Homo sapiens: one gene and its partners. The protein of the gene in region 3 interacts with the protein of the main gene of each other region in a pairwise test. Each region holds a gene or a part of one and is shown on either strand. Other genes may lie near its edges.

Region 1 (3,652 bases), on a different chromosome or scaffold from region 3:
GAGAAGCAGCACACGGCAAGGCTGAGCCCTTTATCAGCAGGCCTCCGTAGAGCGTGTCTGCGTTGTCAGCTGCCAATGGGCTGAGTGGCTGGCCGTACCCACTCAGTCCAAGAGAGGAAGGAAACAGCAGGAGAAGCTGTCAGCTTGCCATTCATGAGCTGCTGCTGCCCACCAAAGCTGCTTACTGGCAAGAAGAGATGTGGGGAAGACATGAGCTGGTGAACACCAACCTGGTGCACATGCTGCCAAGTCTGGCCCCTGAAGAGGAGAGGGAGTGCAGAGTCCAAAATTGACCGGGGCTCCTGCTCTGGCATGGAGCTGGGTCAGAGGTGAGAGAGGACCTGGATCCTAGGGCTCACGCAGGTGTCGGGCGGGTGCCAGGGTCTTTTCACTCCAACTTTTTGGCTGGCACCCGTGTCCGAGCAACAAGGATGGGCACAAGGGCCAGGCCGGCAATGAGGAGGGCCCACAGGGGTCGGTAGAAGAGCCAGCCAGCCGCCACGGTCAGCAGGGTCAGCGAGGTGGCCACACAGAAGGCAAAGGCTTTCAGGCCAATGTTGACCAGGTCTCGGAAAACAGGAAACCAGTCCACTGTGGAAAGGAGAAAGGTGATGAGGTGCCACCTGCTCTACACCTCACCAGCTCAGCAGATCTCTCCTGTCCCTAGATGAGGATGGGCCCATGTTGCTACATGCATGAGGAGGGGAGAGGATCAGTGGGTGGAAGGCAAGGAGCTTCGTTCTGAAAGCTAAGGGAGCACAGGAGCCTCTGCTATGAGCTGCGTGGTTGGGCACATTGCCTAAGCCACCCACTCTACCCTGATCCAGGGGAGAGGATGTAGCAGTGCTTTGTAAACTTTAATACTTTATGTGGAGAGTAGTCTGAGGCCAGTATAAAGACATTTGCCTGTAATGCTAGAAATAACCTGGGTCCTGCACACTCATACAAGAGGCTGTGGGTGGAGCCTCCTGAAGGTGCCTATTTGGGCCTCTCAGCCATTCCTAGAGGTGTTGGTTCATTCATGCAGCAGGCTGTTACTAATGATTTATGTGCCCAGCACTGAACCAGCAGGTGCTAGAGGAAATAAATTAGCCTAAGCATTGGCCTCTCCTCAAGAATCTCACAGACTATTGGTCCAATAGGATAAAGCCCAGAATCCAGCTAAATTCATGAGGAATTACCCTATTCTTGCCTTGTGTGACCTCTCCAGGTTGGCATTCCATAGCTGATGTCCACTCAGGGAATCTTCGCTCAGTTCCCAGGAGGCCACCAATGGTCTGGAATCACTGGGTTTGCAGAGCAAGCCCTGGTGCCCCACCATGCCTGCAGCACACCCTGCAAGCCACTACCTGGCCTCATCCTGATCTGTTCCCATACAGCACTGCTACTCAGCCCTTATAATAAGCAAAGTTCATGTTTCTGAACGTTGCCTGTGTTAGGCACCATGTGCACCATCTCATGAAGCACTCATGCCCACCCTGTAAGGTAGGTACTCTTCTTAACTCCATTTTACCCACAGGGTCACTGAGACTCAGGGAATTAAGAAACTCACCACCAGTCCTCCTGTTAGAAAGTGCCAGAACCAGGATTTGAACTCAAGACCGTATGGGCCCAGAGCCTGGGCTCTGAGCTGTTGCTCTAAGTCTTGTCTGTCTCTAGCTGTGGAGTCTTACACACGTTGGTATTTATCAAACGCATGGGGAACTGTGTGCTTCCCTGCTGCGCTCCCAACTCTCCCCACCCACCCTGGGGGTCCCTCCACACTCTAAGTCTGTCCTGAGTCTGGCGCATTCCAGACGTAGAGTGAATTGGGATCACAGACATCAGAGATCCAAAGAAGGGCCCACTGAGACAGACACGAGGAAACCAAGGCTCCAGAAGGGAACTGGTCTCCCCAGGGTCACACAGGCAAGAAAGAGGATTCCGTTTAAATGCTCATCTCTCGCTAATGTGCCCACCACGTCACTGGTCTTTCTGAGCACAATTCAGCTGTCCAAAGAAAGGCTCAGGGAGAGTCCTTCCCTTCCCGGGCCTGTTTTCCCAACTGTAAACAAAGGAGGTGGTCCCCCCAGCTCAGACAGCCCAAGATGTGCAGCCAGACCTCTTCTGACTTGTGCATGCTGAGTGGGGAAGAGGTTTCTGTTGGCACCCAGAGAAGACTGATGCAATCATGTGACTGGAAGGGACACACACCAGGGAAAGGCTTGGATGGAGAGTCCTCCGAGGAACCCCATCCTCCTGGGCCCAGAACGCACTTAGTCACCCTGGGCACTCAGATCCCGAACCACGCTGGGCCACAGGTCTCCTACTGGGCTCACTGGTGCCAACCTCAGGTCAAGGAGTGGCCCAGAACTCTCCTTCATGCTCCAGACTTGCTGGCTGCCCAAATCTAGCCCAGGTTTTGGAGTGAGGAAGGAAGCATGAGAGTTTTGGGTGTTTCCTATTTGCCACATTTCATAAAACTCTGCATGTAAGGGGTGAGGTGACTGAAGCTGAGATGGGAAGGGAACGGCCAAGCATCCAGAGCTTGGACGTGACAGATTTCAAATGCAGGTCTGGCAGGCTCCCATGTGGTATTCAATTGTGGATCAAAGGAATGAGCAAATGATCGAGCCAGCAGATGGACGAACCTTCAGGCTGTGGAGTGAGACCAGTGCCCCAGAGTTGGCCCCACCCAGCCTGGCCCCTGGCAGCTCCTGCCCTCAAGCCTGCCTTCCTCTGCTCCCTCATCCCAAGGCTATGGAGCGGGGACACAGAGATGAGCCAAATGCCTGGTATCTGCACAAGGGCCATCCCATCAGGCTGGAAGGGCTGAGATGATGCGACAGGCAGAGGAGGCCCTTTCAGGGTGCAGGAGGGAGGGCAGTGACCCACCCCAACACCTACCCAAGGTGTAGAGGATCCGTGTCATAAGGTTGAGGCCCATGAACATGGCCATCCAGCCAGCTGCCCGCAGGCCCCAGGTCTTCATGGAGTTGCTCCTTAGTTCTCTATGAAACACCTCCTGCAGGACAAGGTGGGGGCAGGTCAGGATGCTGAGGGCCAGTGGCGTACCCAGTCGGCAGGGCAGGTCCTGAGGGGGCTGTACCAACTCGGGAGCTGTTGGCCATTTCTGAACAGGCCAGACGGAGTGGGGGCAAGCCTCCTATAGGGCTAAGTCCTTCTGCCCATCTGGCAGAGCACAGGGCAAGGCATGAGATCTCTGTGGAACGTACGGGCCTTCCTCAGCTCAGAGCCTGCCAGCACCTGGAGCCCTCAGCCCACGGTCTCACCTGGAATGAGCAGGACCCTGCCCACCACCCCTGAGCAGGTTGGAGGATGTCTGCTGGGCAGCATGCTCTGCGCTATGTGTGTGATCTGTTTAATCTCAGAACCTCTCCACATGGCTTGGGGACACTGCACCCTCCTTCTCAGGCTCCATCGCTGTCGCTGCCCCTCTTCCTGTCCATTAGATGCTGCAATTCTTTAGCTGCTTCAGTCCATACTCTCTCCCCGGACATCCCATCTGCTTCCTTGGCCTCCACATGCCGTGACCCTCCAATTTAAAGCTGCAGCTCTGGCCCTCTCCCGGGCCTCACAGCCCTGCAGCTCCCACCACCTCCACCACCTCCTTGACATTTCCACTTGACATCTCAGCCTGTCTAGTGCTGAC
Region 2 (3,652 bases), on a different chromosome or scaffold from region 3:
AGAGTTAAATGATAAATTCTCTACCATAAGTTTCCCTATTTACAACAAGAATTTATAACCAGAATACTGTATCTCTAATAAATTTAGGCAATACTTTACAGGCATCTGTAAACAAAAGCTAAAAAATACTGCATATGTAGTCTTTTGAGCATAACATGAAAAGACTTGCATTAGAATCAGATTTTAAAGATGGAAGAAACTCAGTAATGATCTAAATCCAAACTCTTTCTTGATAGAGAAACAGAGGCTAAGAGAAGCAACTGGTCCAGCTTGCTAGTGATGTAATCAACTTAAAACACAAGTCTCCCAAATCCATATGCTATCACTATGTTTGTAATGGAAATTATTTAAATAGCCTTATTACTGAAAGAAAACAACTGCAATTTAGGAGCAATAAGAAATAAGAATGTTACTTAAAATATTTCATGTTTCACAAATAAACAGGGAAACCACACCCTTTTTTTTGGGGGGGGGACCAGTGCCCAACTTTTAAAAATGAGTATTCCATTTTCCACATGAAACTTGAGTCTTTTTTTGACCCAAATCCTCCACTATATGGCAGAGGCAATTCACATGGCACACTGAGCTTCTTGCCTTTACTCTAGGATGGCTGGGGTGGCTTAGCTTATTAGCCAAGGCAAAGCTTATTATGACATAAACTGTTCATTCACTACCAAATCCACTCTCCCCTTCTCCCATGGAGGGCAAATGGACACCCAGAATGAAGACTCAGTCTGCTGCCAGGTGTGGCTAAGTACTGACCAACAGGATGGCTATAAGTCAAAGTGCCATCTAGCGGTGCCCAGGAACTCTCCTCAAGAGAGACATGGCATGCCCACTGTATCCTTCATCCTTGCTTCATCTCCTCTGCATTCCTGCCTAGAACACAAACACACTGTGGACCATGAGGATGATGACCACACCCTAGAAATGGCAGAGTTCAGAGCTGTAAAGAGACGGAATACCTGAACACTTTGTGATGCTCCCAACGCTTTGTGAGAAACATAGCATTGACTATCTTGTTTAAGGCCGTATTTTGGAATTTCTCTGCTACTTGCAGCTAAACTAATCCTAATAATCAGGACATAGGGGAAAACAATTTTTTAACTTTTTCTTTTTAAAGTATAAACCAGAACTGAGGATACAGGTGGTATTACCTTCTTGATGAGAGGTATGACAATGTTAGAGAACTCCTGGAATCTGTCCTCTTTGGTGGCCTTCAAGATATCAGCTGCACAGCTGATTGCTACAATCTTGTATTTGACATTCTCTTTGCTACATTCCTTCAGAACAGCTTGAAGAATTTCATTTGTGCTGGGTTGATTGGGCACAGACTTTTCCAGCTCTGCACTACAGGGTCCATACAAAAGCATCAGAAGTTAATAAAGGCTGCAGTTTTCGGGTCCAGTTTAAGAAATGGCATCTTCATTGAAAGAACATTTACCTGCAAGCTGTCACCACACAGGCAATGGCTTTCAATAGCTCCTCCTAAGGGGTTGAAAGATGAGGAAATACTATTAAGCCCAAACATGTCATTTACACTGTCTAAACCATGATTACAATTACCTTAGGAATTTTTGATAACTATGACAACAAAAATTAACAACAGTCACCTTATCTTTAATGCATAATTTTAAGCACATCCACCAAGTTTTACTCCAAACCATGGATGTAGGATAATTATCTTCACCTCCATTTCATAGAAGCCTAAAGAACTGATTCGACCCAGGTCTCACAGAAAACAGTGTCAACCACAGAATTGGAATGATGTCTGACTCCCAGTCCGGTACTACTTCATTCCTGCATGGGCCACTATTGACCTTTACAACATAAAGATCATTAGGTTACCACAATCTCATGTTCCCCACTGAGTGTTCACTGTTAAGAATCCTACTAAAGCTCTTGTGTAAAAAAATAACTGTTACTAATTCATAGGTCCCAGAGATGGGCATCTTCAGCCCCAGGTTTAGAGGCAGGCTACCTTGCTACTCTATTTCACATATGCCCAATCCTGATCTTTCTATGCCCAATCCTGATCTGTTCATGAGGTCAACAGGTACAAAATGCTGACAAGTTGGTTTAAGACGTAACTTGGAAGGCTGAATATGGAAAATGTATCTATCTCCAGCATTACTGTCCATTATGCAAGGCCACACGGGTTGCAGTTTGAGAGGAAATACCACAGTTAATCAGGCAAGGTTTACCCAAAGCTTCCACTGTCTAGGAAATCTAGTTCACAAAAATAATCCATTGGAAAAGTTACACAAAACCAGATCGTTACTATTATGCAAAATGAAAGATGAAGTCAGAATCCCTTTAACTGGGTATGAATGGTTCCTTTACCTTTCCTGCCCACGTTCTTCCAGCCAGGCCTTGCAGCAATGCGGTCAGTATCATTCCGAGATATGGAGGTACTAGAGAGCTAGTCTGTTTTGCAATTGATGCCATGGCAATTGCACCCTGGGCTTTCATTTTCCAGGACTGAGACTGCAAAGCCTTCTGGGTAATAGTAATTAACTCCTGCAGGTATAATCGAATGCCACCAAAGGATCCTAGGAAAGCAAAATTAAAACAACTTTTAAGTGACAAGAAAAATTAACTGATTTTTCTAAACCTGAAAAAAAGTCAGTGACCAACAGTCTAAAAGCAGTGACTCTCAACTGTTAAAACACACCACTCTCTCAAAGGGAGAGAAAGTGTGTTGGTGTTGTGACTTATTCTCACAATAGTAGAACTTTACGAACTTGGGTGCCCACAGGAACGTATCACACAAATGGGCATCATCAATTAATATGCGACAAGGTGAAAAACACATTTAGAAAACTACTCTAAAATACTCTAAGGCCACATAAAATCACACTCTTAATTAAAAATGTAAAGCTCTCCTTGCTCACAGGGTTTATATTCTCTCATGTGGGCAGTGATGAATGAGTAAAGACAAAAATCCTGAGTGCCAACCTTGAGAACTCAGCAATTTGGATGGGTTCAAAACTAAATGGGATGAGCAATTTGGATGGGTTTAAAACTAAATGGGATGCATATTAAGGTCCTGGGAAAGTAACTTCAGAGGAGTTTATGAATAACGAATGCAAGTAAAAAATTCTAGCTGTGATTCCTAAGAAGCAGGTTTAACTCAGGCCACACTACTAACCAGGTACGTTTTCCTGCCACACTTCGGTCCATAAATTACATTCTTCTTTTTCGGATTTCTCCTCATCAGCAATTTCATGCATGCCTAAAAATGCCAGAGGCAGGACTTCTTTTGCATGATTCTTTAATACATCAGGGCTGTATCGTCCAATAGCATGAATAGTCAAAGCACAAGAGGTCTTGTAGATAGGTTCTGAAAAGGAGAAACCAAAATCTTTACGATATTTATTGTTTTTAAGGGTAACTGATCTAAACAGGCTATTGTTCAACTCATATAATAGCAAAACAAACAGGTAAAATCAATTAGAAATGTTTCTAGCAGGCTGGGTTGTGGTGGCTTACACCTGTAATCCCAGCACTTTGAGAGGCCAAGGTGAGCAGATAGCTTGAGCTCGGGAGTTTAAGACCAGCCTGGGCAACATGGCGAAACCCCACCTATACAAAAAATACAAAAATTAACCAGGCGTGGTGGCACGTGCCTGTAGTTCCAGCTACTCAGGAG
Region 3 (3,652 bases):
AAGTCCCCATGGCACCTCAGACATAACTCTCACAAACTCTACTTCCCTGGCACACCCATCTCAGTGATGGCACTCACTAGTTGGAGCCAGAAAACAAACTGTGCCTTCCTTGATCTTTTTGTTTTTTTGAGATGGAGTCTCGCTCTGTCACTCAGGCTGGAGTGCAGAGGGATGATCTCGGCTCACTGCAACCTCCGTCTCCCGGGTTCAAGCGATTCTCCTGCCTCAGCCTCCCAAGTAGCTGGGATTACAGGAGCACACTACCATACCCGGCTAATTTTTGTATTTTTAGTAGAGATGGGTTTTCACCAGGTTGGCCAGGCTGGTCTTGAACTCCTGACCTCAAGTGGTCCACCTGCCTCACCTCCCAAAGTGCTGGGATCACAGGCATAAGCCACTGCGCCTGGCCCCTTGATCTTTCACTGAACCTGCCCCATGCTCAGACTTAGTTATCAAATCTTGGGGCATTTATCTCTTTAGTGTTTCCCATATCCATCTAGTTCTCTCCTTTCCCACTGTCCTTCTATAATTTCAAACTTATTAACTCTCATCTAGATTACTGCAACAGTCTCTTAACTGAAATAGAATAAGATAGGATAGCATAGAAAGTATAAGAGTGCAAAACATGAAGTAAGGAAAAGTGATGTTTGGTTTTAGTTATGACTACATATATGTATACGTGAACTGTGCAACATGAAAAGTATTTATCATTGTAGGTCCTCAGAACTGATCCTAACAGGGCTGGACAAGTGTCTAAGCTCCCTGTAAAGCCACATGTAGTCACTGAGCACTTGAAATTAGCTAGTCCGAATTGAGATGTATTGCAAGCACAATATACACATTGGATTTCAGACTTAGTATGAAGAAAATAATATAAGATCTCATTAATAATTTTTATATTGCATGCTGACATAATATTTTGGATACAAAATTAATTTCACCTTTTTTAACCTTTAAAACTGTGGCCACTTGAAAATTTTCAATTACACATGTGGCTCATGCTGTATTTCTACTGGGCAGAGCTGTTCTAGAGTTCTAGGCCAGTATGTGACCCACAATGGGGGCTTAAGATCCACTCAAAAATGGATTGATCCTTTCCATGTCCCAAAATATGTATTGGGGTGAGCAAGTAAAACCTTTTCTTCAAATGCAGGGACTTTTCTTAACTTGGGGATTGGGTTAACAGAGTCCTCCCTGCTGGGAAGTACTTCCCCTCAATGGATAAAAAATAGCTTTTAAGAAAGTCTAATATGTTAAAGTCAAACTTACAAAAAAGCTCTCTTAAGGGATTTCAGCATCCTGGCATGCTTCCACAAACCAAACTACTACCTTCTATTAAACGGAAATGCCCCTTTAGGGGCAAGGGGTTTGGATTCACTTCTTTTATTTCTCTCCACAGCACCTGGTGCATTGCTGTGTCTGGAAGTTGTTAACCACCTGGCTGACTGTGGATCCCATGGGTAAGGGGATGGTAGGGGTTGGTAAGGATTGGTAAGAGACTCAGTTTTCTCTCAGTTATCTTCCAAAACTCTGCATTGCTAAATACTTTAAATCTTCCTCACTGCCTGATTGAGGACATATACATGCACTCTTTTGATTTCTATATGCTAAATCATCAAAATAAAACACAGAAGCTACCTATTATATTTGATTTAGGTTTATTTCTTCCATAAGGGTTTAGCATTAGGCAAATTGGGTTGGAGGGGTAGTGAGAGAACAAACCTAAAAGAATGGAAGAAACTAATTGATTGATTCCATGCTAAATACACCTGACTAGTATCAATTTGCAAGACATGGATGTTGCATTTGGATAGAGACCAGCAGGAAGATACCTAATAATAACCTTAGGCAGAATTCCAGTTGACCACAGTAAATACCCAAGGAAGCTCACGTTTGTTTATTTTCGCCAATATTGCGCATTAAGAGTGTTTCACTTTTAAAATGTATGCTGTTCTGGGTGGCTAAGTAGATGGCAATATTAGCAAAGGAAGCCATTGATGTCTCTGGAAATCTGGTCATCTTTTTGAATACTAGCAGATGAGCATGCTACCTCCAAACTGACATAATGCACCTTCTGCAAGACAGCAGTCTCTTGGCACTGCTCCACTTTGAAGTAAAACCCGAAATGAACTCCTCCTGCTAATGTGGCATGTTGAACCAACCCTTTTTTATTTCCAAGGCCTTCTCAGTTGATCCATAGTATATCCATCTTCATGGAAGTGACTATTGCAGTCTAGAATTACAATTCCTTCTGACAACAGAATGCACCCCTAGAAGAACTTGTCCAAGGTCATTAACCAAATTCTCAAGCAGACAACTTTCAGGGTGGCTGGGCCTTGTTAGAAAGGGCTTCTGGGACACCTGCTGAGCCCAGAGGATCTTTCTAGGCATAATCTGAGGGCTGGGAAGATATGAGGACACAGTCCTTGCTCAGAGGAGTCCTTGTATCTCAGGAGTTAGATTTCCAAGAAGGGCTATTACATCATATCACCCAAGGCCACTCAGTTTCTCATCTTGACAGTCAAGCTGATGAGTCACCTTGCATCATGTTTAATCAGGAAAATAGTAAAGAACTGAAAACAAGTCAAGAATCAAGAGTAAACATTGTAACAATGTAAAGAGTTCTCAGAAGCATCTCAAATCAGAGCACCATGGTAAAATGGTAAGAGTAGTAAGATTATATTCCTAAAATATAGGCTCTATCATAAAACCTAGGTAATGCTTTTGTTATTTCTTTTCTAATTTCTTTATCAGAGTTACTGCATTCTATTTAATCGTCTCCTTTCTTATATTTTCCTCTAATGAAGAATAAGGCAGGTAGAGAAACTACAAGTTTTCCTGGCAGAAGAACTTCCCCTTGAAATATAATTCAATCATATCTGCAATATTATTATCAATTTGTTACTTACAGGGATCTAAAATATAGACTGCTTTAAAGTCTATTTATTCACTCACGTATGCCAGCTCCCCACTTCATTTCAGCAACTAGGAGAAGGAGCCTGCCCTCTGAAGGAGAATCCAAGTGTGGAGCTTCAATCCTAAACAGGCCCCCTGCAAATATTTCATACACTTTCCATAGTTAGTTAAGCAACTCAGTAGCCACACTCTGTTGATGGCTGTGGTGTCAGTGACCCACATACAATTTGGAGCTATATGCCTGGGTGCTGGGAGAAATGCAGAATTTATACAATTTGAAATATGAAGACACTAGCAAAGCTACAAGATCAACAGAAACTACTAAAAACCAGAGAAAGAAATGCTAATTTCATGTTTTCACTTGCTGCTCACTCTCTTCATCAACAAACTTTTTTATTAAGTAGTTAGCATGTGCCTTAGTTATTAAAGTAAGATCATTAGCAAAGGAAAGTTAGGCTATAAAGTATAAATCTAAATTTAGAATATAACCCTACAGTGATCAAAGTTAGCTAATAAGAGAGAAGGCAATTTGAAAATTTTAGTAGTGTTTTATAAATTGGTTGCAAGCCCCTGTTTAAACAGAGTCAAATTTCAGTAGCCCATGACAATGATGAACAACGTGGAAAATTTTGTATCATAAGTAAATCAAAGCAGGTGCTTCAACAGTTCAACTTATGTACATCTGTATCATACCTATGCATGTGCATGATACACACACACACACACACACACACAC

Evidence for each region.
Region 1: the proteins of PCYT1B (region 3) and TMEM43 interact in binary tests that used the Homo sapiens proteins (3 or more experiments, as listed by UniProt).
Region 2: the proteins of PCYT1B (region 3) and ECPAS interact in a two-hybrid assay, tested with the Homo sapiens proteins (one large-scale study listed by BioGRID).

Annotation. Positions count from the first base shown.
Region 1 is NC_000003.12:14,138,532-14,142,183, reverse strand, and holds part of TMEM43 (transmembrane protein 43), read right to left. Parts: intron 3,005-3,652; coding exon 2,887-3,004; intron 592-2,886; coding exon 389-591; 3' UTR 1-388. UniProt on the Homo sapiens protein: May have an important role in maintaining nuclear envelope structure by organizing protein complexes at the inner nuclear membrane. Required for retaining emerin at the inner nuclear membrane.
Region 2 is NC_000009.12:111,369,278-111,372,929, forward strand, and holds part of ECPAS (proteasome adapter and scaffold protein ECM29), read right to left. Parts: intron 3,344-3,652; coding exon 3,152-3,343; intron 2,553-3,151; coding exon 2,344-2,552; intron 1,489-2,343; coding exon 1,445-1,488; intron 1,351-1,444; coding exon 1,158-1,350; intron 1-1,157. UniProt on the Homo sapiens protein: Adapter/scaffolding protein that binds to the 26S proteasome, motor proteins and other compartment specific proteins. May couple the proteasome to different compartments including endosome, endoplasmic reticulum and centrosome.
Region 3 is NC_000023.11:24,640,824-24,644,475, forward strand, and holds part of PCYT1B (choline-phosphate cytidylyltransferase B), read right to left. Parts: intron 1-3,652.